Regions from separate parts of the Homo sapiens genome. Here all the other regions are linked to region 2. The links come from fine-mapping of genetic effects on gene expression. A gene starts in region 2. Each other region holds a variant in brackets. All regions are shown on one strand. Distances are between the middles of the regions. Region 1 overlaps GAS6 (growth arrest specific 6). Region 2 holds the start of GAS6-AS1 (GAS6 antisense RNA 1). Region 3 overlaps TMEM255B (transmembrane protein 255B). Region 4 overlaps GAS6 (growth arrest specific 6).

What was found. PIP is the estimated chance that this variant, and not a neighbour inherited with it, causes the effect.
Region 1: its variant is fine-mapped to the expression of GAS6-AS1 in whole blood (TOPMed, PIP above 0.99).
Region 3: its variant is fine-mapped to the expression of GAS6-AS1 in whole blood (TOPMed, PIP above 0.99).
Region 4: its variant is fine-mapped to the expression of GAS6-AS1 in whole blood (TOPMed, PIP above 0.99).

What each region holds. Positions count from the first base shown.
Region 1 is chr13:113,845,016-113,852,553 of GRCh38, forward strand. It overlaps GAS6 (growth arrest specific 6), which reads right to left. Exons shown (of 15, transcript NM_000820.4): 3 at 3,011-3,035; 4 at 1,512-1,574. Among named protein-coding and RNA genes, the nearest start is that of GAS6, 15 kb to the right of the region's middle. RefSeq lists enhancers at 3,459-4,082, 4,083-4,704, 7,429-7,538. The variant G/A (reference allele first, on the strand shown) is at 1,784.
Region 2 is chr13:113,811,614-113,817,307 of GRCh38, forward strand. GAS6-AS1 (GAS6 antisense RNA 1) reads left to right here and starts at 3,997. Exons shown (of 5, transcript NR_044995.2): 1 at 3,997-4,078. It overlaps TMEM255B (transmembrane protein 255B), which reads left to right. Exons shown (of 9, transcript NM_182614.4): 9 at 123-5,382. The coding sequence ends at 290. RefSeq lists enhancers at 3,881-3,950, 4,001-4,240, 4,301-4,420.
Region 3 is chr13:113,759,898-113,767,435 of GRCh38, forward strand. TMEM255B (transmembrane protein 255B) reads left to right here. Exons shown (of 9, transcript NM_182614.4): 2 at 6,218-6,360. Among named protein-coding and RNA genes, the nearest start is that of TMEM255B, 4.4 kb to the left of the region's middle. RefSeq lists an enhancer at 1-48. The variant C/T (reference allele first, on the strand shown) is at 3,588.
Region 4 is chr13:113,836,348-113,843,885 of GRCh38, forward strand. It overlaps GAS6 (growth arrest specific 6), which reads right to left. Exons shown (of 15, transcript NM_000820.4): 5 at 3,381-3,503; 6 at 1,722-1,844. It overlaps GAS6-AS1 (GAS6 antisense RNA 1), which reads left to right. Exons shown (of 5, transcript NR_044995.2): 4 at 1,730-1,900; 5 at 6,022-6,494. Among named protein-coding and RNA genes, the nearest start is that of GAS6, 24 kb to the right of the region's middle. RefSeq lists enhancers at 935-1,144, 1,253-1,805, 1,645-1,704, 2,360-2,912, 3,084-3,660. The variant T/G (reference allele first, on the strand shown) is at 4,771.

The DNA.
Region 1 (7,538 bases), 34 kb after region 2:
ATCACTAAGATAAAACACGCGTGACAGGATCTGCTTGTCTCCTCTGAGCACGCAGGAGCCTCTGCCCCAAATGCAGACATTGGGCCCTACGTGGCACCTGGCTACTGTGCATGGTTGCAGGTCAGGGCAGGCCGGGCCACAGGGCAGGGCCACCCTCCCATTCCCATGTTTACACTGAGCATTTCCTCTGCCTGTGTCTCTTGGGCTGGGGTCTGTGATACAAGTCCGGGAGGCCAGAGACGCCCACGGACAGTGCGTGGGGCTTGGGGAGCGGGACTGAGCCACCTCTGACTCCTTCTGCTGACTGGGATCCAGCTCCAAAGCCATGCCTGGGAAGAGACTCCTGCCTCTCCCAGGATGACTCCGTCCCGCCACGCCTCTGCTCTCAGCGCCCACAGGGACTCACCAAGCTGGACTTTCATCTAAAACTAGACACACGTGACGCCAGCGGACCACAGACCCAGTGCAAGGGGAGCTGTGTGGGTTGTGCTGAAGGTATGTTAAAATTCATACAGGACACCCAAAACAATCAATCTTATTGCATGATAATTTTAAAATAATAAAAAAGACTTGTGGCAAGCTGAAAAAATTTTTGATAACTTTACTACCAATGGCTAATGTGCAAACTCCTACAAATTGAGAAAAACAGGCAAAAAATATAAACAACAGTTTATAGGAAAAGAAATACACAGTTTTTAAACCTATGAAGGACAGCTTTACTCATTAGTTAAAAAAAAAAAAAAAAACCTGAAATGACTGATGTCATTTCTCGCCTGTTACATTGGAAGAGATCAAAAGTTTAAAAAAACAGTTCATTCACCCCTGCAGGGGCGGAGGCTAAGGCTGGCTCTGGGATAATTTGGCAGTATCTGTATCCAAAGGAAACATGAGGACTGCCTCTGCGATTCCATCCTTGGGAACGCATCCCGCAGACACTCAGACGTGTGGGAGGCAACAGGTGCATGAGGATGTCACGCCAGTTTTGTTTAAATGATGGAAATTGGAAATAACCTGGACATCAGCCAATATGCATGGGCTAAGTTCATATGATGCACCGGCTGGAAATGCCAGCGTGAAGGTGAGACACGCTAAGAGAGGGTCTCCTGTGCAGACAGAGTTGCAGAGGCACGGGACAGACCGTGTGTGCTAAGCCGCCACGCGTGTGAAGAGCGGAAGGCCGCTCACACATGTTTACATGTCTAAGCACAAGATTCTTGGAACTGTAACTACGGTGGTGTCTGACTGGACGACTCAGAGGCGGGGATGGGCTTTCACATCACACTCTGTGAAACATTTACATTTTGTTCCATGTGCATTTATTGCCTATTGCTAAAAACGTCAAAATTTACTTGTTTAAAAAAGAAAGTTTGGCGAAAAGGGAGCAGGCCTCGGCAAGGGACCACAGCTCCTTAAAAAACAGAACTATTCAGGGCCCTCCACAAACCACAGCCAAGCCTAAAGCCGCCCAAACCCACAGTGCTCCCAGGAAGGCGCAAAGGAGGCCGACTTACTTTGCACGCAGGTGGCGAAGCCTGAGTTTTTGGTGTACGGAGACCCATACTTGTTGATGCAGTCTGCAGGAAGAAAGGGAATGGATGTCAGTCATCCTTACAAGACCGGATGGACTGCAGAGCCTCTGCTTCTGAGACGCTCTGGAGAGGCAGTTACTCTGCTTACCTGGGGTGCTATCATCCTCCAGAAACAATGCCGCTTAGCTTGTGTTAATAAAAAACATGTTAGCCCCAACCCTGACAAACAGGAAACCACCTCCACCAACTCAGCG[G/A]AGTTGTGCACCCACAGTCAAGTGCGTAAAGCACCGCCCGCCGTTTCGAGGGGGCTCCTCCTGCCATACGGGAGAATCACCGGGAATGCTCAGTAAGTTCCTGACGGTACTCGAAAAGCTAAACTTCATTTTCCAGTGGACCCCCATTGGGAAACGCTGTGCTTAACTGGAAAGCCACTCTGCTTTGGAGAAAGCCCCTCCATGCTCTCTGGCTGGCTGAACACAGCTTGACAGCAGACATCCCGCTAGGGCGGCGGGGGGAGGCGAGGCCTGGCACATGCACATCCAGGGATAACCCGAAGCGTGAGGTTGTGCAGAACGGTGCGGGGCCTCTCGACCTGGCCCTTCAGTGGGTTACTGTTGCTTATCCAGGCGCAGAACGGCACGGATGAACAGCGGAAGGCCTCCTGCAGGTGTGCTGTGGACCGCTGGCCACCCCCTGCTTCAGAACTCAGTCCTCGCTGGTGCCTGGGCTTTCTGGGCCAGTGCCAGACCCACTGTGTTTGTTCCAGATATGGACCCAGGGAAGGACCCTTTAAGAGGACATTTACTAAAATGCACTTTGCAACATTAAAAAGAAGACCCTGGAATACATTTCTCTCCTTCTAAGTGAAATGCTCTCAAAGAGCTCTAAGATGGTGTCAGTTAAACGGGCTGACCCGGGGTCTCTGGGTTTCACTTTCTTGCTGTCCTCCCTTCCCAAGTGTACAGTGGGGGTCTCCAGAGGCCGCCCCACATGCACCAGCTGCTCTGATGGCTGAGATAACGTCTGGCATTCCCGTTCTTCAAATTAAACAGAAACACTATTCAGTGTTTTCGGTTTTAATTAAGAATACGGTAAATATCAGTCAATACAGCCCACATGAACATGGACCCCTTTGGGGTCCTCAATGACTTCAGAAGTGATTAGTGCTGAGGTCAGAAAACCGGAGGACAAAATCAATTACACGTCCTGACAAGGAGCTGAGCCTGGCATCAACTCAGAGAAGGGGTTTGCAGATAACAGCATTCACCTGAGGTTCCACTAACACGGAATAAAGCTGTGGTATAAAATAAAGAGAGAAACTTGTGTTTCTGACCTGCATGTTCCGGACAGTTCCACGTGCACCATGTGATTAAGAATCTTCCTTCCAAGAGTTACGTGGTGAGGAGATTCCTCCAACATGAAACACGCACCCCCAACTATGCCTCTACGACAACCAGAGTAGAGAAGTAATTGAGACTTACCTAAGTATCTTGGGTAAAAATAATCCTGTGGAAAAAGAAAAAGAAAAGGCAAGCATTGACCGGCACACTACGAGGGTCTCTGAACAACATAAGCATCAGCTGGTTAATCAGAGGCTGCTCTCGGGGCAGCCAGAGGGCCGCCCCACCCGGGGAACTGAGGGGAAGTGACCGGGGCACGACTGCTGTGAGACCAACAAGCAAAGGCAGGGCCATTTCCAGCTGCGTAGGAAGTGCTACCAGGTGTGTCCAGGGGAGAGGCCTGCCCAGGAGGACAAGAATGCTTCCAAGTAAAACCCCACTCTTAGTTCCCTGTTGACATAAGGGTCTCTAAAACCCAAAGACCTTAGTTCCCTGTTGACACAAAGGTCTCTCAAAACCCCAAAGACCTTTCTTTTGGCACACGGGCATTGATTTGCACTTATAGTATTGGTGAAACAAAATTGGTACTGGGTGAGGATGGAGGCTGTAATGAAGGGTCTTCTTATCCATGAAAGCGCACTGACGAGGTCCACATTCGACACAAGTGAGCTGTCGAGTCCTGGAACCACCTGCCTGTCACTTGGCCAGCAGAGGCCGGCCGGAAACTTCTTCAGGATCCTTTTGCCATGGCCCACAGATTCTAGGGCCACAGCCTGGTTAAAGCAGCCTCCAATCTCCAGCTTAGGGTCAACCATGCCAGCAGTTTGGCCCTAAATGCTCTAAACCAAGAGACCACAGTCATGGCAGAATAGTCCCAGCGGCCTCTCCATGCTGGGTATGAGTCAGCATTTTTACACTATTTTATGAAATCCTCACAAATAACACCCAGGAAGGTCTTTTTAATCCCATTATCAGGAATGAGGAAACCCGGCTTCAGGATGGTTGTGGGATTCACCTGGGGGCATGAAGGTCAGGATTAGCAGGCGCTGGTAGCATTTTGCAGAGTAGCAGACAGAGGCGGTAGGTACCCAGCGCCGTCTGCAACGCGCCTCTGGCTTCATGCGCTGGCTCTGCATGGCCTTTCTGCCTCCTTCCCACCTCTCTCCCACACTTGCTGGCCTTGCCACACCTTTTGTGGGAAGAGCCTGGAGGCCCCGCCCCAGCCTTGCCAACACCCTCCTGAGGCCTGCTTGGATGTGTTTTCACAAAGTTGTGTTCTAGGAAAGATGGGATGCTCTTAAACTCTTACTCCCTTAAGAGAAAGGAAGGGTCAGGGTGAGCTGGTGTGCAGCTCACGTGTCTGTTGGGAGGGCGGCCGCCCTGAAGGCCAGGAGGGCTGCAGACCTGGAACACACACCCTCATGCCTGCCCTCATTTCTCTCACTTCCAATTTTAGTCATGGGTTGGCAAACTCCAAGAAAAGGCAAGAACAGCCATACCAAGTGAGCCCTGGTGGAGTCCTGGAGCAACACGAAGTGGCACCAGGTTTCTAGGCTTGGAAGGAGAAGGGAAGTGATGGGGCTTTGTCTCAAAGCAGGAGGCTCTGGCTCTGAAATAAAAGACTTGCGAGGGATGCAAAAGGTGTCCTTTCAGGTTTAGAAGCCAGGGATTGAAAACAACTAAGAACTAGTGAGCAAACGGCCTAACTATACACAAATGCTTGCATTACCACAGCTTTACAGCAAGTGTGTTCTATTTTTCAAAATCAAGACTAGTCATACTACTTAATGTGTAATCTGTATTAATACCAAGTTTTATTGTTGCAAAAAGGCATTATTCATGGAAAAACTATGCCAATCTCCTGTCAGTTCGCCACACCTATGGGAATGGGGTTTCTGAAACCACAGGGTTATAGCCCTGGGCACTGTATCCTAATTTGCATGTTTGATTATTTGAGACAGTAATGGAGGCAGAAAGCATATGCTAATTCCACCGGCAAACTAGGGGAAAGATGGTTAAACCATGAGCAAGAGAAAAGCTAAGATGAATAAACCTAAAAACGCTATACACTCCTGAGAGAAAGAAAAAGAGACATTTCACATTTTCCTGAGAACATTCTGGTACACACTCCCAAGAAAGAAAGACATTTCACGTTGTCCTGAGAACATTCTGGTATACACTCCTGAGATAAAGACATTTCACATTGTCCTGAGAACATTCTAGCCAAAGATGTAAGACCCAGAAATGGCTTTGAGTAAAGGCACCCAGATAAGCTCCCTGACCTGCAGAACCAAACACAGAGCACTTTGTCCTCAAAACCCTCCCACCCCTGTCTGCACTACTGCTTGTTCAGGTCCATAAACCTTGGCCTGAAGCCCTGCATTAGCCATATCTCCAGAGCAGCACCCCCAGGAGTCCCCATGGAGCAGAGGCCACCACTCAGGAGGCCGGAATTTAGAACCAGGAGCTCCTTATGTACACACTGACTCTCTTTCTTCTAAACCTAGGAAGAGCAAGACCTATGGTAATGGGTTGGCGTGCTGGGGTTAGGTGAGGGCAACAGGGGGAAGAAGCTGGGATTCCCAGGCTGGAAATGGCGCCATTTGGCCCCTGGAAATCCTTTCCCCGGGGATCTGCTTCTGTTTTATTTGAACAGCTACAGATAAAAATAAGTGAGCAAACCCCAAGCCACTGCACTGTTAGCTGAAGCTTCAAGAGGAAAAAGACAACATCTACCTGCCCAGCACCGAGCCTGGTGCTGACTGTCCCCCAGAGGCCTCATGAGCCGTCACCAAACACATGGATGGATGACAGATGGACAGTGGATGAGTGCGTGAAAGAATGGATGGGTGAATAAATGAGTGGATGGGCAGATGGATGCATGAATGAGTGGGTGGATGGATGGATGAGTGAATGGATGAATGACTGAACAGATGGATTGATAGATGGATAGATGGATGGATAGATGCATGTATGGATAAATGCACAGATGAATGAATGAATGGATGGATGAGTGAATCGGTGGATAGATTAGTGAGTAGGATGGATGAGTGAGCAGACAGATGCATGGATGGATAAGTGAGTGGATGGGTGAATAACCAGATGAATGAATGAATGAATCAGTGGATGAATGAGTGAATGGGAATGAATGAATGGATGAGTGGATAGAGATGGATGAATGAACAAATGAATGAGTGGATGGATGAGTGGGTGGATGAAAGAATGAATGAGTGGGTGGATGAGTAAATGAATGGAGATGGATGGATAAATGAATGAGGATGGACGGATGACTGAGTGGGTAAATGAATAAATGCGTAGATAGATGGGTGAGTGGATGGATGGATGGATGAATGAATAAAACAATGAGTGAATAGATGGATGAGTGAGTGTATGAATGAATGAGTGAGTGGGTGGATGAGTGAGTGGCCAGATGAGTGAATGAATGAGTGGGTGGATGGGTGAGTGAATGGATGAATGAATGAAAGAATGAGTGAGTGGGTAGATGAGTGAGTACATGAATGGATGAGTGGGTGGATAGGTGAATGGATGGACAGATGAATGAATGAATGGGTGAATGAGAGTGAGTAGATAGATGAATACATGAATGAATGAATAGGTGGGTGGGTGAGTGGGTGGGTGAATGGATGAGTGAATGGGTGGGTGAGTGAGTGGATAGATGAGTGAGTGGGTGAATGGGTGACTGGATGGATGGAGATGGATGAATAAATGAAGGAATGAGTGGATGGATGGATGAGCGAGTGCATGGATAGTTGAATGAATGAGTGGGTGGATGGGTGAATGAATGAATCAGTGGGCAAGTGCAAGGGCCTGCAGTTTTCACTCCCACAGAGCACTGAATGCTCAGTTTCACTTAAATCATAGATAAGTACTTGGAAGAAAAGTCAAAATCAATGCTCCCAGTCTGTTTCTTTTAATAATATGGAAGTGTTTGTGCTGTAATTCCTCAAGTTTACAAACCCCCACGTGATTTTAAAACTTACATCCTTGTTATTAACTGACATCTGCCAAACCCACTCTTCTAGGTGGCAAGCGTGGTGCCCACTGCACGGAGGATGCAGCCATTAGGTCTCTCGGAGGTTTGTGTGCTTTGCTGTTCCCGGCAGGGACGACTTGGAGGGCAACAGCCTCCTGGTCAGTGCAGGGCCCCGTCCCTGGGTGAAGCAGGGCAGGTGCTCGGCCTGTGCTCCCGAGGCTCTGGCGCAACTGTGAGTGGCCCAGGATGGCCATGAATGCAGCCCAACATAAATTCGTAAACTTTCTTAAAACATGAGCTTTAGGCACAGACCTTCTTTTTAGCTCATCAGCTACTGTTAGTGTTAATTTTATGTGTGGCCCAAGACAGTTCTTCTTCCAATGTGGCCCACGGAAGCCAAAAGATTGGACGTCCCCGTGCTGGGGGTTCCGGGGCTGGTCGAGGCTGGGAGCCCCGTCTGCAGAAGGTCCCGGTGTGAACAGTGGAGCCGGTGCCTCCTCTGACGCCTCCCTGACTGTGCCCGTTGCCCTTCGGTTTCGTAAGCATGGAGGAAACTGAACCTGAAGCAGCTTGGAGGGAGCTGAGCCCCAGGACAGGAGCCTGGTCTGGCTGGGGTCTAACATGAGGCCCCAAATTTGTTATAAAACTACAGAAAGTGTCTGATGAGTAGATGCC
Region 2 (5,694 bases):
GGCCCTGGGTTGGCGGGGTGGGTGGGGAGCGTGTGAGTGGCCCTGGTATATGTCAGGCTTCCCTGTGGTCCGGCACGGGGTGGTCTCACCTGCTAACCCAGGGCCCTCTCTGTTTATTGCAGCCCTGCAGCCGCTTCCCAGTTGCGCCCTCCTCTGCCCTGGCTTCGTCTGAGGACCTGCAGCCCCCTTCTCCAAGCAGCTCTGGCTCTGGGCTTCCCGGCCAGGCTCCACCGTGCTACGCACCCACCTACTTTCCCCCGGGGGAGAAGCCACCCCCCTACGCACCCTGATAGAGGCGTGGAGTAAAAGATAACTTGTTTGTTTTTTTTTTTAAAAAAAAGGCAGCCTCTAGAAATCCCGCTTCTGTGGCCAACCTCCTAGAGAACCCGGGAGAATGTTCCAGAAGTCTGTCCCCTCCTTTCCTCCCTGGGCACACTGGTGAGGGAGGCTGGAACCAGGCAGGGAGTGGGGCCCTCCAGACCCAGGCTGGTGACACCTTGGCTTGGGCTCTGCTCACATCAAATGGCGCTGAAAGTTCCCACCCGGCCTCCTCCTCTGAGAGCAATTGTTCTGGTGTTTTCACATCCCTTAATTAATTAGCTATTATTATGATTTTGCAAAGACAGTGCAGCCCCGGCCTCCCTGCCTGTGTGTTCTTGTTTGTGGACATGTGTTGTGCGTTACACGTTCGTGTGTGCATCTGTGTCCTGGAGAAGCGCAGGGCAGAAGCCACCCGCCCCTCGTGCTGTGCTCCTGACGTATGCCAGGAAGGGAAGGACGCTTCGGCTCCAACGCCCAGCGCTGTGTCTAACCGCCTGTGAGTTGTTAGAATCCAGGGGCCCGGTTGTCTTTCCCAGCCCCGGATGCAAATCTGCCTGGGCCACTGGCACGAGGGTCTTCCCCTGAGCTGTCTCCCAGCTACGGCGCCTGGGCTTCCGCTGTCCTTCCGCGGCTTCTCCCTCACCGCACCTTGTCTCAGGACCCCTGGCCGCTGGGATGGTGGGGGACGGTGTTTCGGGGTCCTTTGGCTCAGGGTCTGGGGCCGCAGCACTCCCTGTGGAAACCAGCTTAGCTCCCCGCGGGCCCAGCATGCACCTGCCGGGCACACCTGGGGAGACGGGTGAGCACGCCTGGGAAGCAGCAGGTCCCGGGTGGGTCACAGGCCCCGGGTGGGTCACAGGACAGGTCTCAGGTGGGTCACAGGTCCTGAGTGGGTCACAGGTCCCGGGTGGGTCACAGGCATCCCGGGTGGGTCACAGGTCCCGAGTGGGTCACAGGCCCCGGGTGAGTCACAGGCCCCGGGTGAGTCACGGGTCCCGGGTGGGTCACGGGTCCCGGGTGGGTCACGGGCCCCGGGTGGGTCACGGGTCCCGGGTGGGTCACGGGTCCCGAGTGGGTCACGGGTCCCGGGTGGGTCACAGGCGCCCCAGTGACAGGAGTTCAGGATGCGCCACCCCAAAGTAGCCGAAGTCTCTTGAAAAGTGTTGGATGTGGGGAGAGGCTTTCTCTGAACTCCTGAAGTCAGATCCTCAGGGAACCAGGGACTCCCAGGGCGGGAGGGCGGGCGAGAGGTGATCCCATTGCTCCCCAGACGTGCCACAAGACACCAAGTCGCCGTCTCTGCTCTGTGGGCCGCTCACGGTTCCCCAGTCACTCCCTCTCCCCTCGGAAGCTGGCGCCTCCAGGCCTCACCGCTCTCAGGGCCTCACGTCCCTCCCTGCAAAGCCCCCCGTGCCTACGATAAACAAGTACCGCTCTTCTCCCGTGTGGGTCTGAGGTCTCCAGCTTACTTCACGGAACAGTGCCCACCTGGGAGGTGGAGCGGGGACTTTCTCCCCTGCCCAGTCCTGGATCTGGGAGAAAAAAGATAAGGTGGAGGGGAGCCACACTCGTGCAGACACAGCCTCCTGCCCCCTCTGCTGCCCGGGAGCCTCCCTCTGTCCGATGGAGGGTCTCACACAGCCTCTGCCCCCTCCGCTGCCCGGGAGCCTCCCTCTGCCCGACGGAGGGTCTCATCCTGTGTCCAGCGCTCCTGGGCAGAAGGCCCACAGCGCACATCCACACATGAACGGTGGCTGGCTGGGCCCAGGGGCCCTAACGGGCCTCTGAAAGGCCTGCAGCCAGCTCTGGTCTGTGAACCCGCCACTGCTTGTCATTTTTATCTTATAAAATCCAGCCTCACAAGCTTGCTGTCCAGGAGAATGTGGTCTTGGCCTCTCAGGGCTGACTGGCCTTGAACCAGTCCGGGAGGTCGGGCACGAGCCGGAGGTGCGGCGTCCTGTCTGGAAATCACCGCCCAGTTCCTCCAGGGCTGTGGGTGCCTGGCTCCGAGTAAGAAGCTGAACAAGCAGCAGAGACCAAGAGGTTTCTGGAGCGCCGGGAGATGCACTCACGAGCGCCTGTGGGGGAAGAAAAGTGTGCCACGGATTTCCCGAGTCCCCAGGGCTCTCACTTTACCTCAGGGAAGGCTCTATGGGCGCCGATGGTGCCGTGGTCTTGTGTGGGCGGTTCCTGGGCACCCTGGAGCTCGGGCTGTGCCCCCGAAGCTGCCTGGTGCAGGCACCAGCACCTCTTGGTGTCCTAGGGGTGCGAACAGCAGAGAAGCTGAACTGCAGGTCTGGGCAGGGAGTCTATGCCCCCTGGAGCTCTGGCCAGCAAAGTCACAGGAATAACCCTCCTTCCCCTCATGTCAGCCCTCGGTCGCAGGGTGCGGTGTGGGGGCATCAGAGTGCTTCCCCGAGGCTGCACTCACCAGCTTCCCCCAAACACAACATCGATCTTTCCCGACTTTTAATCTTGTCTAGAGTCAAAAGCTGTTCAAAAATATTCAACTCCAAGGTCAACAGTTTTGTTCTTGCCACAAAAATGTCCTTATCCTTTATCCCAGCCACAAAGAATGTGAACAATTTGACTCAAGGTTCGTGGTGGCTGGAGGGTCCCCCAGGTCCCAGGGCAGCTCCCACCTGGCGCAGGGCTCCGGCCAATGCCTGGCCTGCAGTGTGGGCGGCGGCTGCTCTCGAGGTGCACCTGTCTCATGTGGACGGATCCTGTCTGGGGCCACCAAGCTCTGCCAGCCTGAGTCACGGTCTGATGAACCCCCTCTCTGGGCTCCGCTGGGGCCTTCTGATCCCAGCCTCCTCTGCAGGGATGGGCTCCCAATCCCGCCCTCACTTGGTTCCCATGCACAGCCGAGGTCAGTGAGACCCTGGAGGCCGCGGGAGATGGGGTGGAGGGGATGGTGGGGCAGGGGGTGCTGGGGGGTTTGGGGGTGCTGTGGCCCCGGGGCAGGGGGTGCTGGGGGGTTTGGGGTGCTGTGGCCCCACCTGCACTCCCTGCCTCACTGGGACAGCACAGGAGACAGGCTTCTCCTGCAGCTCAGAGGTGGGGGCCTAGTGTAGCTGCAGGTTGTGACTGAGGAGGGCAGGGTCAGAGCATTGCCCTGGGCAGGGGTCCGTTGAGACTGGCCCCACCTTATTAGCTTGGGACCTTGGGTTACAGGGAGTCTCCTCCTGCCTCAGTTTCTACATTTCACACAGCAGCACTGCTCACAAGAGCTCCCAAGCAGAGGCAACTACTGAGTGGGGGAGGGACACAGTCCGTCCACATGGGGCCAACGGCCACAAAGAGAGGAAGGGACATGGGTGACGGTCCGTCCACGTGGGGTCACCGGCCACGGAGAGAGGAAGGGACATGGGTGACGGTCCGTCCACGTGGGGTCACCGGCCACGGAGAGAGGAAGGGACATGGGTGACGGTCCGTCCACATGGGGTCACCGGCCACGGAGAGAGGAAGGGACATGGGTGATATGGTTTTGCTGTGTCCCCACCCAAATCTCAACTTGAATTGTATTTCCCAGAATTCCTGCGCGTTGTGGGAGGGACCCAGCGGGAGGTAATTGAATCATGGTGGCTGGTCTTTCCCGTGCTATTCTCGTGATAGTGAGTAAGTCTCACGAGATCTGACTGGTTGATCAGGATTTCCGCTTTTGCTTCTTCCTCATTTTCTCTTGCTCCTGCCGTGTAAGAAGTGCCTTTTGCCTCCCACCGTGATTCTGAGGCCTCCCCAACCATGTGCAATTGTAAGTCCCGTTAAACCTCTTTTTTTCCCAGTCTCGGGTATGTCCTTATTAGCAGTGTGAAAACAGAATACTACAGTGGTCCATCCACACGCGGGTCTCACCCAGCCACAGAGAGGGAGAGGACGTGGCCCATCCACACGCGGGTCACCCGGCCACGGAGAGGAAGGAAGCTCTAACGGGTGCTGAGGCTGTAACACACAGTGCTCAGGGAAGGACACCAGACATGAAGACTGTGTTCTGTTTATATGCAGTGTCCAGAGAAGGCGTGTCCACAGACAGAAGCCGACTGGGAAAGGAGGTGCAGTCACTGCTCAGGGACACGGGTTCTTTTCGGGGAGGCAAGCGTGTTCGCAGCGTGTTCTGTATGGGGAGAGATGCAGTCACTGCTCAGGGACACGGGTTCTTTTCGGGGAGGCAAGCGTGTTTGCAGCGTGTTCTGGATGGGGAGAGGTGCAGTTACTGGTCAGGGACACGAGTTCTTTTCGGGGAGGCAAGCGTGTTTGCAGCGTGTTCTGGATGGGGAGAGGTGCAGTCACTGGTCAGGGATACGAGTTCTTTTCGGGGAGGCAAGTGTGTTCTAAGCGTGTTCTGGATGGGGAGAGGTGCAGTCACTGGTCAGGGACACGAGTTCTTGTGGGAAGAGGAGTGTCCGGGAGCCAGATGGCAGTGATGGGTGGACGGCCCCGTGGATGGACTGACCACCGACCCATGCTCTGCACTCATGAGGCGTGGCTATTGCTGTGTGAATCACATCTCCATGGAAACGGGAGTGGGAGAAACGGGCCCCAAGGATGTTGTGAAGATGGCCTTATGGGGCTGCACTGGTGACTTGGACAGTGCTGGCCACCGGCCCTGCTCAGTGAACAAGAGCCATGGTCATCACCCTCGCCACACAGAGCAGCTCCTCCTGCAGACTTGGGGACCCCGTGGCCACCAGACCCCGCGGTGGGAGCAGAGATGCCTCCGAAACTCTGGAGACCCACAGAGGCAGAAGAGGATTCCACGAGGCCGGGGCCCGTCAGCAGATCCTCAGACGGCGACACGCGCCACTTCCTTTTCTGTTTCCTAGACCTTTTAACTGATGGAATTCAGTAAGCAGAAAACGTGCTTGAAACAAGGGCACCATGGAGCGGACCCTCCCCCTCTCCCCTCGTGGAGTCCTTGACCCTGGGGCAGGTGACCCTTCTTGCTTTGCAGGCAGGGGCTGTGGCTGGAGCTTCTCCTACAAATGGGCTGTGCTGGGATTAGCCCGGCTGTACATTTGCTTTATGCTTCCGTTGGCATTTAAAAATCTGATGTTCATATTTGCCGTATTACGTGAAGTAGGACGAAACGTTCCTTCTTGCTTAGAGCAGTGTTTCCCCAGAGGTGCCCGGGCCCAGGGGACAGTGGCCAACCTCTGGAGACATTTCGTGTTGTCATGAGGCTGGGTGTCCAGGAGGGGGCGATGCTGCATCTGCTGTGCACAGGACGCGGCCACATCAAAGGACCCCACCTGCAAAACACATGCCCAACCTCCTTCCTCCTCTCCAGCCCAGAGTCAGGGCTGTCCCCCCTCCCTCCAGGGGACACATCCCCCCTCCCTCCACGGGATACATCCCCCCTCCCTCCACGGG
Region 3 (7,538 bases), 51 kb before region 2:
GCAGCCTCGGAGCCAGGCAAAGGCTGGGAAAACAGGAAACCTGTTGCGTGTTCACCAGTTCGCAAGCCGGGCTCGGGGGCTCTGCCGGGAAGTGGCCAGGACTGGAAGGATGCCGGGTGTCTTCCTGAGGGGGAGAGGGCTGGGCAGATTTCAGAACAAAAGAGAAACAGAGTTCCCTAGAAAGTGAAGCCCTGACGGCTGGAGGGAGGGATGGAGTGGTGTCTAGGGGGCTCTGCCGCTCCCTCAGAAATAATCCAACACAAACTTCTGGGGATTAACCTCACAACCCTTTTACTGCGGCATCGTTCGGAACCGGACGAATTACTGTTACTTAAAATAATCAAATAATTTGGCTTCTTTCTAAAAGAAACCACTATATGCCTTCCAATCTAAAGCAAAATGCTCTATGGTCAAATGTATTAATGTGGATTAGTCTATTGGTGTTTAATAATGATAACTATTATTATTATTTATTAACTAGTTTTATCATTATTAGAATGCCTTAATGTTTAAAAATAGCATCTGACTTAGATTTTCTTCTGACAAAGAACTTTAAACCTTAAAACAATACTTGGAGCTGGTCTTTTTAGTATATGAAACATTGGTGTATCTGGGTAGGATTATGGGTCTTTTTGTTTGGAGCTGGTCTTTTACTAAAATGTATAAAGCATTGGTGTGTCTGGGGTTGGATTATGGTCTTTCTGCTTTGGTGTGTCGGGGTGGATTATGGTCTTTCTGCTTTGGGGTATCTGGGGGTGGGTTATGGTCTTTCTGCTTTGGGGTATCTGGGGGTGGATTATGGTCTTTCTGCTTTGGGGTATCTGGGGGTGGATTATGGTCTTTCTGCTTTGGTGTGTCTGGGGGTGGATTATGGTCTTTCTGCTTTGGGGTATCGGGGGTGGGTTATGGTCTTTCTGCTTTGGGGTATCTGGGGGTGGATTATGGTCTTTCTGCTTTGGTGTGCCTGGGGGTGGATTATGGTCTTTCTGCTTTGGTGTGTCTGGGGGTGGGTTATGGTCTTTCTGCTTTGGTGTGTCTGGAGGTAGATTGTGGGTTTTTCTGCTTTGGGGTATCTGGGGGTGGACCATAGTCTTTCTGCTTTGGGGTACCTGGGGGTAGGATTATGGGTTTTTCTGCTTTGCCCTTCTTTGTTCACTACCCTGGGCATGTGTAAAATCAGGACGAAAGAGGAATTGACGGCTGAGTGATTACAGTTTTACCTGGGATTGTTACTTGGACACCATGACTGGTGTCCCCACATGATTAAATGGAACTCACTCTTCTTTTTGGGCGTTCCAGGTCCGGCTGGCAGGAAGGCCGGATCTTAGAACCCTTCCAAGCAGTGCCACCTCCCATGCTTTGTGACATTCCCCTTCCTGGCTCTGTGGAGTAGAGGAAATGGGTCTGAGGGGCAGGAAGAACCTGACCTCCAGCCTCGCGTGTCTTCCAGGTAGGACCTGGCGTGGGCACAGGCTCATGTGGTTCAGCTCCTCCAGCTAAGGCTGGGGAAGGAGCCAGGAAGGGGAGAGCAGGTGGGATGGGAGAAGTGGGGGCTGGTGGGGAGTGACAAGGTGATATTCTGAGATATCCTAGATGGGCTGCACCTGGGGAAGACTAGAATTAGAAAAATCAGCGCACTTGATAGCAGAGAGGTAGCTGTTGGCCCCTTCAGCTTCACATCTCAGAACTCCTCCTTGCAACTCCAGTGGGAGAAATGCTGGTTAAGAATAGCCGCTACGCCGTCTTAAAGTTCACACCACCCTGATGATTAGCATATGCATTCCATTTACAAAAACCTATATGAGAGCCCACGTATCGTGTCTCACTGGACGCTTATCACAATCTCAAGAGGTGGGTGAGCAGGTGGTTCTCATGATTTCCATCCTACAGGTCAGGAGACTGAAGTGCCTTCATTCATTCCGTACCAGGAGATGTGTCTATGTCCTCATCTGAGCCCCGGGAACCGGCGACAAACAAGAGACAGAGCTCTTGGCTCTCATAGGGTTCTCTTCTCCCAGGCTCAGGGAGATTAAATGGCCGCCCAAGACCACACAATGGGTCTGGACAGACCCAGAATGGTTTGGGTCCAGTCCCTGTAAGCTGCCTCTGCAATAGAAACCTATTGGTAGATATTTTAATTAATAGTTGGGGCACTTAGGAGCACTTTAATTTTCACAGTGCGTGTAATAACAGTATTTCCGGGACAGGAAAAAAAAAAAAATCAAGGAAATTATTCAGGTGATTTTAATTATCTTTCTCCTAAGTGAAAGCCCCTTTCTCTTGAAAATCTGACCTTATAATTATCTCTTATGCTAATTATAAAGATATCCCACCTTCTTTTCTTGAGTTTATTTTTTTTCTCATTTTTATGCTGTGTCATGTATTTATAGAATGTGTTTAAGGTTGGGAGTCTTCTTTTTGTTATCTCTATTATATCTGGAGTCAAAATATCACCATTGTGTAATTGAATGAGATGATTTGCAACCATTGCTCCCAGTGCCCCATGTAAGTTCTACTGTCTTTCTAGACTTGTATAATCTAGGAATCTGTGATAGGAATGCTGATAAAAGGGTGGCTCATACCTTCTGCTTTTTATTTTGTAGCAGATGGGGGGGAAGTTAGACTCAGGAAAGAGGGGTAAACATAGCAAAGTTAGGTTGAAAATGGTTTGTAGGAGGATTTACGTGGTTTCAGAGGAGATGTGTCTAACTCTTCGCATAGTAATTAACAAGTCAGCATGTTACCGATTGACTTGACAAGGTCAGTTAGCCCAGTGGGTCTTGCTGGGCCCCCACTCTTCATGCCAAGGAACCGAGCAGAGCTTCCAGCTTTAAGAACCAGAATCCAGTCACAGGGTTCCTGACAGACGGACGCCCACAGGAGGCTGGGACAGGAGCCCCACGGAAGGTTCTACCTGTGGGTCGAAGCAGACGCTGAGTCATCTGGTTAACTATTTTGAGCATAATATTATATGCATGCAGTGCATTTAATTAAGAAAAATCGCACAACAAAATCCTTTGAGAAGGACAGCGTTTGTCTGATAATTTTCTCAAATACTTAGTCCCATAAAATTTAGTTTTAGAAATTGTATTGCTCTTAAAATACATTTAAACAGTCAAAAGATTGGAATGGGAGCCTAAGGAAAAGCAGGAAAGGCTGAAGCGGGAATTGTGTGAGTTGAAGGCACCTAGCATTTGGCTGCATTGGCAGGTGTTACATGGAGGCTGGTGAGGGTGACCTGGAGCCTCTGGTCATGATCAAATGAGATAAGGAAGTTAGGCTGCTCTGAAAATCGACACACAGCCCAATCCATAGATGGTGTTATTATCATCAATATGATTATTTTGTGTAATTCCACAATAGCTGTTTCATTAACTTCCAAAATGTGGAATTGCATATATTTTTAAATTTTGTGTCCATTTTTAAAAAGTTTACCTACCTTTCTAAAACGAATCAACCAGAACGGAGTTTCACCCACGGGAGGTGCCTGCCTTCCTCTTGCCCACTTGCTCCCAGCGTGGGTTTGCCGTTTCTCACCTCGACTTCCCGACAGAGACCCGGGATCTGTCGCCATCGCTCCTGTCTCT[C/T]GGGCAAACGACCGTGAACATATAACCTTTCAGGTTTTTAACAAATTGCAAGATTTCAGTGAAAAAATTACTATAAAGCATTGTGGTCCTAATTTAAGAAAAAAATGTTTTAAAAAGTACATAGTGCATTGAAAAAAGACCATAAGATTTTATGCCTACTTGTTAATTTAGGTTACCATGAATTTTATTTTCCCTTTTGCATTTTTCAGTACTTTATGAGTGTTCTACAAAAAATCACTCTGCTCTTCTGAGCAGCGTAAAAATCACACTTTCCAACATATACCCACTGTCTCCCTTTTCCTTGTAAGAATGTCGTTATCATCTTCCCAACCTTTTCCAGTCCAACGAGGGTTGGCTTTTAGTTCAGAAATACCATGAGAGACACAGGGAAGAACTGTGCGAGTTAGAGGTGGGGAGGAGGAAGGAAGCCTGAGGCTGAGAAGCGAGGGACTGAGAGGCGGAGCTGGAGGAGGCCTTGGGCCGTGTGTTCCGGCTGGCAGGTGCAGCGCCCATCCCCTCATGCAGGGCAGGTGTCGGGTGCCTGGGCCTCGGTCACTTGAGGGGAGTGTCCTCCCCATCCAAAGACAAGAAAGGACGTGCTCCATGCACACAGGAAGGCAGGTGTGGCCTGGGGTGGGATGGGCCGGGGCGTGGGCGTGGGACACGGGGACACGGGTTGGGGCTGGGGGAGCATGACTTTAACAGACACTGGGTGATGGATGTGTAGGTGCCAGGTCCTGGGCCGCCAGTGTGGCCTTGGGGCTCCTGGTGCTGTGCCCGCCCCTGCACCCACCTGCTTGTCACCCCTCTAGGTTTATTCAGTGTGACCCCTGCAGAAGCTGCCTTGGGGACCCGGAGGGCGCAGGTGTGGCCCTGGCTGCAGGGACCCCGAACCCCAGGGCGTGTTCCTGAGGCTGGGTGTGGGGATTGCTCCCTGGCCCGCACCGGGCTGCGGCCTCTGGTGTCTCAGGAGGGTGGCTTTCAGAAGGAGGGCCTCACTCCACACCAGTGGTGCTGGGCTGAGGGGTGCACTGTGCCATCACCAGGCCCCTCAGGGAAGGCTCTGCCCTCTGCCCGCTGCCTGTGGGTGACACATCCGGAGCGCCCTGTCCCCAGCCCTGCTTAAGTTTTCTCCACTGAACTTGGCCTTTTCCAATGCCTGCAGCGTGTGCCTCTGTCTGTCTGGTGTCCCCTCTGCCTCTCACATGCGAGGATGCTCTGCAGGGGCAGGGGTGAAGGGGCAACTGTGGAGAGCACAGGGGTGAGTGTGGCTACTATACTCAGTGTGTCTATGCAGCAACATGTAAGAGAGGCCTTCAGGGAGTGCTGCGAGTGTCTAGCTGGAGACAGCAGGTACAAAGGCCCTGTGGATGCTGCAACAAGCCTGCCTCTAAGGAGGCAGGAGATGGGGCAACCAGGGAGAGGCTGAAACCACTGCCTGCGGCCTGGAGTATAACACTAAGGACAGTGCCACTGGCCGCCTCGGTGCAGTGGGTCCAAGACGGGGGCAGCCTGGCTGGCTGGTGGGAGCCGATGGTTTATTACATTGGCGAATGGAGTGATCTGGTCCCCTCCAAGGTGGAAGGTAAAAAGCGATTTAGGATGAGATTCTTGGGACAAGTGTATCTTTGCAAGGGTCAAGAGGCAGGCAGGGTGCTGTGCCGGGGGCTGTGCTGAGTCCAAGAGGGCCTTGAAGGAAGGCCGTGACCAAGGCCACGCCCTTGCTGGGTCAGCTGGATAAAAATGACTCTCTCAGATCAGCAGAGCAATTCTGCATCTGCACATTGATTTATAGTTTTGTGAAACTCATTTCTGAGGATGTAACAATCCCTTCCTTGGGTGCGATAACCTTGCCTTGCCATTGAGCTCTGCTGATGGGATTGCAGAAGTGTAAATCTTCAGATGCGGACCTTCTAGGGTGTGGACAATGTCTGCACGGCCGTCATCGCTGCCAGCGGCTCTCCAGTGTGCGGTCTGCTTTCCCTGCACACACGCACTTACACATGTGCACACACACAAATGTTGATTTTCAAACTCTTGGAGTAGGAAGACCTTACCATGGTTTTTTAAATCCCCTATTTTGTTTGGAGTCACACAGGGATCAAGATGATTCAGTTTTCAAAAAATAAAGCAAAACAGATGGCACAGCTGGATGGCTGCTGTGTGCGTTCCTCTCTCCCTGCCCCTCCCCTGGTGGCAGCCCCCTCCCCCACTGGGTGTGGCTGGGATAGGCGGATAGAGAGGGTGTGTCTGTGAGCGAATGGTAATGATAAAACAGTAAACAAAAGATGCTCCTGTCCTCCTGGGGACACCAGGGGGAGAAAGTCAGATAGAGGAAGAGGCAGCCAATAGGAAGGAGTCCTTTCTAGTTTGCTTTCTTGAGTTCTGTGACAGTTAGAATTAGGTTTGGCCGCAAATACCAGGCTATCCAGTATAGTGGCTTATGGTCCAGAGATTTTATTCTGTTATCTAATGGAGGTTGGGGGTGGTCCCCTGAGGTGGGCCTGGAGGCAGGCGGGGATAGTGCATCCCAGGACCCCTGGGTAACGGAGCACGGCCCAGAGCCTGCTGGCCTGACGCCCTCCTGAGCCTGAGCCCTCACTGACAGGTCCTCGCCTTCCTCCCCACAGAAGGGCTTTCGAGGAGGAAGAAGACGTCGCTCTGGTTTGTGGGGTCTCTGCTGCTGGTGTCCGTCCTCATAGTCACCGTCGGGCTGGCTGCCACCACCAGGACGGAGAATGTGACCGTTGGGGGCTACTACCCAGGGATCATTGTGAGTGCGCCGGGCGGGCGGCCTGGGCCGGGGAGGGCAGGGTGGTGTGTGGCTCTCTCAGGGTGGAGTCCACGCCAGCTCACAGGGCTGGGGCTGAAGGTGGGGAGGCTTCGATCAGTGCTTGTGGTCGGCAGGGTTATGGCCCCCACAGACATGCACTTCCCAATCCCCAGGACCTGGGACAGTGGCAGGTCCAAGGCAGAGGGGAATTGGGGTTGAGGTCCAAGTTGATCTCAAAATAGGGCCAGGTGCCCTCCATTGTCTGGGTTGGCCCGATGTGGTCACAGGGTGACCAGAGGGCAGGAGGGGGGCCAGAGCCCGGCAACAGGAAATGTCCAAGGTGGAGGAGGGGCCAGGAGCCCAGGATGTCCAAAAAGGCCGGACAGAGCCTCCCCAAGCATCCTGGAAGGATTTTACCCTGAGGGACCAGGTCGACCACCATAGCCCATGGAAGGGGAAAGTAACTTTAAACGATTCCTACCAAGAAGCCGTGGGTCAAAGATCGTATTAGTGACGTGATCGCGTGGGAACGGCCAGAAGGTGGTGGTGCTGACCTCATCCACCCGTCAGGCCAGATTTTGAACAGTAAGGCGGCGAGGTAAATTGATGGTAACCTAATTGGCAAGAATTGGTCACCCAGATTCAAAAGTATCAAGGTTTTTTGAACTATGAAATTACATCCTCTGTCGTTAGTAAAAGAATTCTCCTAAGTGCCTGCATTCTGCACAGTGAACCTCTGTTGGAATGGCTTGGATCAGCTGCGATGCCCTTCACATGCCCCAGAGCCTGGTTGCTACGTCATAAAGTGCTAAAGCAAGATTTTAAAATGCGGCTTCTTCAATCTCATTACTCTCACCTAAAGTACTACCAAGATTGGTAATAATATTGATGACAATCAGCAAAGATGAAAGATTTTTGGCCCTAAGTATTTAGAAATATTTTACAAATACTGTTTATTTCACCATTATATTTTCCTTTGTTTATATCTTAGGGTGTGCCTTAGACATCTACACTATCTACCTGTGTATAGTTTATGAATAAACATATACAAATAGTATCTATGCAGAAAAAGCTTTATCAGTAAAATTGCAAGAGGCCAATGGTGTGGGGACCTTGGCCTCATGTGAGGGGCTTTTCTGCTTCCTGGGCAGAAAGGGGAGCCCAGAGGGCAAGTGGCT
Region 4 (7,538 bases), 26 kb after region 2:
GGAGGAGGAGGGGGTAGGGAGAGGATGGAGAGGAGGGGGAGGAGGGGGAGGAGGAGGAGGGGGAGGAGGAGGGGGAGGGGGAGGAGAATGGGGAAGGGAAGGAGGAGGACGGAGGGGGAGGAGGACGGAGGGGGAGGACGACGGAGGGGGAGGAGGAGGAGAAGCAGGGAGGAAGAGGAGAAGGTGAGGGAGGGGTGGGGGAGGAGGTGAGGGAGGGGGTGGGGAGGGGTGAGGGAGGGGGTGGGGAGGGGTGAGGGAGGGGGTGGGGAGGGGTGGGGGAGGAGGAGGAGAGGGGAAATAAGGATGGGGGAGGAGGAGGGGGAAAAAGAGGAGGGGGAATGAGGAGGAAGAAGAGGGGAATGAGGAGGAAGAAGAGGGGAATGAGGAGGAGGAGGGGGAGGAAGAAGATGGGGAGGAAGAGGGGGAGTGGGGGGAGGAGGAGAAGAAAGAGGAGGAGGAAGATGAGGAGGAGGAGGAAGATGGGGAGGAGGAGGGGGAGTGGGGGGGAGGAGGAGGGGGAGTGGGGAGAGGAGGAGGGGGAGTGGGGAAAGGAGGAGGGGGAATGGTGGGGAGGAAGAGGAAGATGGGGAGGAGGAGGAGAGGACGGGAATGCCTCTGTCACTGTGGGCAGTAACTGTGAGCCTAGACTTTGCCGGGAGTGCCCGACTGGTGCAGGGACCCACGGGAGATGCTTTAGACGTCATCTCTCAGGATCGGCCTAGTCTTCACCTCTCTTTAAACCTGGGGTGCTGCTGTCTTCCAGGTCAGGGATAGAGCAGTGATGGGAGGGGCTCTGTCCTCGGCGGGGAAATGGGTTTATGTGTTAAGATGGGAATCACGTCATCTGCACACAGGGCTAACTCCTGGGTGGTCAGGGAAGGGAACCACCAAAGTGGACAGAAATAGCAGCTGCCTTTTGAAATCGGGGGATGGGGTGTGGCCCCTCCTGTCTGGTCAGATTCACTCTCCAGATCCTGGGGCTGTTTCTCCCTGAGCAACTGTCTGTCCTGTCCACGCAGTTCGGTGTCCTGGACAGTCAGCAGCAGCGCTAAGAACTATGCCAGAAACTCTCAGGGACACGCCTGGGCATGTCCAGATACAACGTGGGGAGGGAGGAGGAAGGTGCTCCCCCTGCAAAGTGGCAAAGGGCCAGTGGCAGCAGCAGCACCTGGAACAGCGTCGGGGGCGCGCACATTCACAGTGACTTTCTGGGGTGTCCTGGGGCTCCCCAGCTCTGGCCCTGGGCTGAGGGAACCCCAGACTGAAATATGAAAGGAAGTGGGGAGGGCAGGGCTATATTTAGTGGACAGAGGGAGACCAACAACGGGGTGCTTCTGGGGATGCTGGGGAGAGTGGACGGCGGGGGGACCCTAGCCTGGAGCCCTGACCCACAAGCTCACTACACAAGTGCCTGGAGCACTTCCAGGCTCTGTGAGGCTCTGGGGAATGGACGAGGCCCTACAGCCAGCAGTGTGGCCTCATGGGCTGGGCCGGCCCCCTGAGTCCTGGCCCTCAGATGCCGGGTGAGTCATCCTGGTGTGGTGCCGAGCAGCTCCCTGTGCTGCGGCTGGCCTGGGCTTGTGTAGTCTCTGCAGGATGCCCCATCCCATCCAGAACCACAGGAACCCAGCCAGCAGCAGCCGCTTGCAGAAGAGCAGACATGACCGAAAATAGAAGGTGGGGAGAGGAGAGAGGAGAGAGGCCTCACCCCAGGGCCTTACCTTGGCAGGTCCTGCCATCAGAGGAGAGCTCGAAGCCGCTGTGGCAGGAACAGTGGAAGCTACCCGGCTTGTTGTGGCAGATCTGGAGGCAGCCCCCGTTCTCCTGGCTGCATTCGTTGACATCTGGGAACAAGCACAGGCCTGAAGGGGAGCCCAAGGGTGCACAGCCCCTGGCTACGGTAGGAAGAGATCCCAGAGGTGCACAGCCCAGCCCTGGAGCAGGGAGGGAGCCCAGAGGTGCACAGCCCAGCCCTGGAGCAGAGAGAGATCCCAAAGGTGCACAGCCCAGCCCTGGAGCAGGGAGGGAGACCAGGGGTCACAGCCTAGCCCCGGAGCAGGAGGAAGGGACCCCGGGGGTGCACAGCCCAGCCCTGGAGCAGGGAGGGAGCCCAGGGGTGCACAGCCCAGCCCCGGAGCAGGAGGAGGGGACCCCGGGGGTGCACAGCCCAGCCCTGGAGCAGGGAGGGAGCCCGGGGGTGCACAGCCCAGCCCCGGAGCAGGAGGAAGGGACCCCGGGGGTGCACAGCCCAGCCCTGGAGCAGGGAGGGAGCCCGGGGGTGCACAGCCCAGCCCCGCAGCAGGAGGAAGGGACCCCGGGGGTGCACAGCCCAGCCCTGGAGCAGGGAGGGAGCCCGGGGGTGCACAGCCCAGCACTGGAGCAGGGAAGGAGCCGGGGGGGTGCACAGCCCAGCACTGGAGCAGGAGGAAGGGACCGCGGGTGTGCACAGCCCAGCCCTGGAGCAGGGAGAGAGCCTGGGAGTGCACAGCCCAGCCCCCGAGCAGAGAGAGATCCTAGAGGTGCACAGCCCAGCCCTGGAGCAGAGAGGGACCCCAGGGCTTGGACCTCACACCCCACTCAGCAGCCCTAGCGTTTCATGGCCCCTGGTCCTGGCCTTGCGTGTGGAGGTAGATGGTGGGAGGGCATGGGGGATCCCCAGCTGCGGTCTCAGCCTGGGGAGCTGCTGGCAGTCACAGCCCACAGGGCTCAGCTCCCTGGATGCCCATGTGCTTGCAGGAGGAGGCTGCAGGCCAGGAGTGACCTCTGGGTGCCGAGGACAGACAAGGCCAGGCCAGAGCTGGCCACTCCTTAGCAAAGCCCTCCCAGGCCACCTGTGGGGTAGGATTTGCCAAAGGGGACAGGCTGGCCTGCTGGGCTCTCCACTATGGGTCTCCACCAGGCCCTGGAGCTATTCTTCCTCCAGGGTCTTCACTGACACCACAGGTCTACACTGAAGGACGGTCAGAGGTGAAATCTCCCCCCGGCCTTTCAATCAGTGGGTGCCACTGACACCACAGGTCTGCACTCAAGGACGGTCAGAGGTGAAATTTCCCCCCCGCCTTTCAATCAGTGGGTGCCACTGACACCACAGGTCTGCACTCAAGGACGGTCAGAGGTGAAATTTCCCCCCCCGCCCTTCAATCAGTGGGTGCTGAGGCATCACTTGGTGTTTCCTTTCCTTCCAGCCCTGCTCCCAGAAAGGAGACTGCAGCTCCTCCCAATTCTCCTGGGGCTCCAGGATACCTCAGGGCTGCAGCCTCCTTGGGGCTGTCGGAGAGCAGCCTGAGGATGGCCGTGCCCCGGAGTGGGAGTGAGGAGCGGGGATCAGGGCAGGGTCGGAGATGGAGGGAGACCCCGCCTTTGTCTTCAGCCTCACGTACCTTTGTCGCAGAGCCGGCCCCCCCAGCCAGCTTTACACAGGCAGAAGAAGTTGCCCATGAGGTCCTGGCAGGCTTGGGTCCCCTTCCTATCGCAGGGGTTGGGCGTGCACTGGTCAGGCAGGTCTGATTGGGGACACAAAGTGGAAAATCATGTTCAGCTGCCCCACCCCTGCGCGCCCAACGCAGCTGAGATCGGGGCGGCTGTGGGGTCTCGGGTCCAGCCCGGAGGAGCTCTGAGGGGCGCAGGCTGAGGCAGCCCCTGGGCACCCGAGCCCTCTGTGCTGGCCTAGGGCTGACAGAATAGGCTGGCGGGCCCTGGGGCCGGCTCCAGGAAAACTCAGATCAACTGGGAGGGAGTGCCAGCAGGCCTGGACGCAAGGTGGGAAGGGCTGAGGGCAAAGGAGCAGGAACTGCCTGGCGTGAGGCCTGGGAGCTCAGACCTCCCAGGGAGTAGGCACACAGAACCCCCAGCTGACCTGGGGGCTTCCAGGCAGACTCGGAACATTCTGCCTTCCCTGGCCAGCCCCTAGCCCATCTCTGGTGAACTCTCCCTGCTGGGTGTGGCGGGGAGGACCCCAGGCCCAGGCTGCACTGCCAGAGGGGTCCTCCAGGAAGCCCCCCTCTTTCTGCTTAGCTGCCCCCTCTCCACGTGTCTTGATGGCTTTAGGCCAGGTGTGTTCTGCCCTTTCTCAGGGTGGTCACCTGGGCTCAGCTCCTGCAGGGCCAGAGGTCAGGGGAACGGGTGAGGGCCTGAGGGTGGGAACCCGTGCCAGTGCAGCTGCTTCCCAAGCAGTCCCCCATCCGAGAAGCTGCTCACAAACACATTCATACGAGGAGCTGCTCACAAACACGCTTCCAGGACACGGACCCAAACCACGTCCCAGAGGCAGGCAGGGAAGCCCCCGACAGTGCAGTTACGCAAGCCTGAGCCCCGGGAAGTTGGCAGAAAGAACGACAATTACACCCGGAGCTCAAAGAATCCTTTCATGGCTGCTGGCAGAGCAGAAGCAGCTCGGGGCTGAGCATGGCAGTGCTCAGGGGCGCGGTCCACACTCAGCTCAGCCCCACATGAGGACTCAGCCACGCTCAGCTTAGCCACACAGGGCTCCGTGGGGAACCCTGGGTAGGGCCCCCCTGCTGGCTGAGAGAGGGCTCCGGTCCATTGATTCCACACAAGTTCAATAAGGACCAGTCCCTGGGAAAAGTGCAGGCCGGGCCAGCAGGGCCCTAGGGCACTGGGCCAGCATCGTCCTAAGGGGTCAGCCCTGGTGGGGGCACGTCGAGTCTTCAGTGCATGGGCTCTCACTGCCAGCGTGTCGCTTCTGTTCCTGAGGCTCCCAAGGTGACGTTTCCCACCAGGTCTGTAGAATGTGGCGTTTCCACCAGAGGG[T/G]CTGGGCTCGGCTGTCAGTGCAGGAGCCGCTTCCATCCCCACCTGGCCGGGGTCAGGGGTGCCCGGTGCCAGGGTGAGCGGCGGGCGGGTCTGTGGTTCACAAAGCTGAGTTCCTCCAGCTCATCCAGGGCTTACAGTCACTGCCTGTGGCCGGCACAGACACAGCCCCTGTCCTCCTAGGCGGGTCCAGGCACCGCGCTCACCAGAGGCCCTGGCTACGAGTCCCAGGCTTCTTGGGGAAGCTGCCCAACCACACTGGCTTCTTTCTGCGACGCTTCGCCGTATGCCTCACAGCGTTTCCTCCGTATGCCTCACAGTTTGCTCCGTACACCCGCGTTTCCTCCGTATGCCCCAGTTTCCTCCATATGCCTCAATTTCCTCCATACGCCCCACAGTTTCCTCCGTATGCCCCAGTTTCCTCCATACGCCCCGGTTTCCTCCATACACCCCACAGTTTCCTCCATACGCCCCACAGTTTCCTCCATATGCCCAGTTTCCTCCATACACCCCACAGTTTCCTCCATATGCCTCAATTTCCTCCATACGCCCCCCAGTTTCTTCCATACACCCCACAGTTTCCTCCATATGCCCAGTTTCCTCCATACACCCCACAGTTTCCTCCATATGCCCAGTTTCCTCCATACGCCCCCCAGTTTCCTCCATACGCCCCACAGTTTCCTCCATACGCCCCACAGTTTCCTCCATACGCCCCACAGTTTCTTCCATACGCCCCACAGTTTCCTCCATATGCCCAGTTTCCTCCATACACCCCACAGTTTCCTCCATATGCCTCAATTTCCTCCATACGCCCCCCAGTTTCTTCCATACACCCCACAGTTTCCTCCATACGCCTCAATTTTCTCTGTACGCCCCACAGTTTCCTCCATATGCCTCAGTTTCCTCCATACGCCCCAGTTTCCTCCATACGCCTCAATTTCCTTTGTACGCCCCAGTTTCCTCCATACGCCCCAGTTTCCTCCATACGCCCCAGTTTCCTCCATACGCCTCAATTTCCTCTGTATGCTTCAGTTTCCTCCATACACCTCAGTTTCCTCCGTCTGCCTCACAGTTTCCTCTATAAGCCTCAGTTTCCTCAGTACACCCCACAGTTTCCTCCCTACACCTCCGTTTGCTTGTTTTGCACAAATGACTGACAACAGAACACTTGTGGGTGTGGACGGAGCTCGCGTCTCGAAGTGTTTCTAAGATGCTATTTTCAGCAGGTCACTATAAACGCTTTCTACTCTGAAGCACACAGGGGCTGGGGCTGGCCTTCGGAGTTACGAGGAAACGAGGACCAGGACCAGGGATTCTGCATCAGCACAGCCGCCAGGAGCCGGCCGGGGCCCCATCCCTGACACTGCTGTCGCCCGGCTGTACCTGGGTGCTGTGTCCGCGGGGCGTCTGGAGACGTCGATGTGGTCATAGCAGGGCCTGGAACGGGGAGGTCTGGCCTGAACTAGAGAAATGAGGGGCGTATCCGCTTCTCCACCCTGGCCTCAGATGAAGAGGCTCTGGGGGCAGGAGGGAGTCAGACACGTGCAGGGCAGGCGGCCTGTGCAGGGCCCAACCCTCCGGCACCAGAACCTGACCTCCTCAGAGGCCCCCACCATGGAGGGATGTCTGGGGGATGCTGTGCGCTGCCGCTACGATGTTTGGTTAGAGATTAAAGCCATTTCAGAAGTGGACACCTGCCCATGTGATGCAAAGGGCTGGGAACCCGGTCTTGACTTTGCCTGGAATGCCTTTCGGAAAGACCTCTGTCCCTGAGGCTGAGGGACAGTGCCTGCTCCTGCCAGGTGCCCAGCTCTTAAGCGGTCCCCAGACTCATGCCACCTGCCCCGGGGCCTCCCCCAACTCATTTGTTTATTTCCCTGTTGGGAATGTATTGATACCTCTAGGATGCAAGGACGGAACCACACCTGAGGGGTGGACAGTCAGCCGGTGCCCAGCAAATATCTGTGGAATTTCCTCCACACAACAGGGAAAGCGATGGAGACAGAAACCTCTGCAGGCCCCCGAGGGCACCCACTTCCCTGACCCCGTCCACCTCCCTGACCCCCGCCCACCTCCCTGATCCCCATCCCGCAAGCTGGGCCTAGGGTATCGGTGGCCTGGCTGGTCATGCCCTGGGCGCCAGCGCCTGTTCAGGAGGTGAAGGGTTTATCTCAGCTTGGCCCATGACTGCGTTGAAGGACAGGAGGGAGCGGCTGTGGCTGTGGCTGGAATCTGAAGCCGGTGCGGGCGGCCAGGGCCTTTCCCTGGGTGGTGACGAGCGAGGACCAGAGCCCTGTCTGCCCGAGGGAAGGGCGAGGGGACACTCCCCGTGGCGGGGGTGGGATCCCGGTAGCCGGGGCTCAGTGACCGCTGCCTGGGCCACCGCCTGTGGGGACCTGACCTTCCTGGGGAAACCCATGGGTCAAAGGAGCCGAGAAATCCAAGCACCAAGTGGCCGCTATGGCAGGACGGGCGCGTTCGCAGTGGAGAAGCTGGGTGTGTCCGTGGGAAAGGAAAGAAATGGAAGCAGAGGCTCTTCAGGGGCACCTGGGAACGCAGCCTACACTCTTCCCAGGCCTCCTCCCTCCGTCCACTGTGCCGCCTGGGTCCTGGGACAGCCTGAGGGCCGCAGGCTCCCATGCAAGGCCCGCTGGGGGCCTGCTTGTCTGGGGCTGAATTTGGACTTTATGGGGCTATGGCTTTAATTTCACAATGACCGATAACCAGTGAACTGAAGCCAGGACAGCACCGTGAGCACCAAGTCAGAGAAT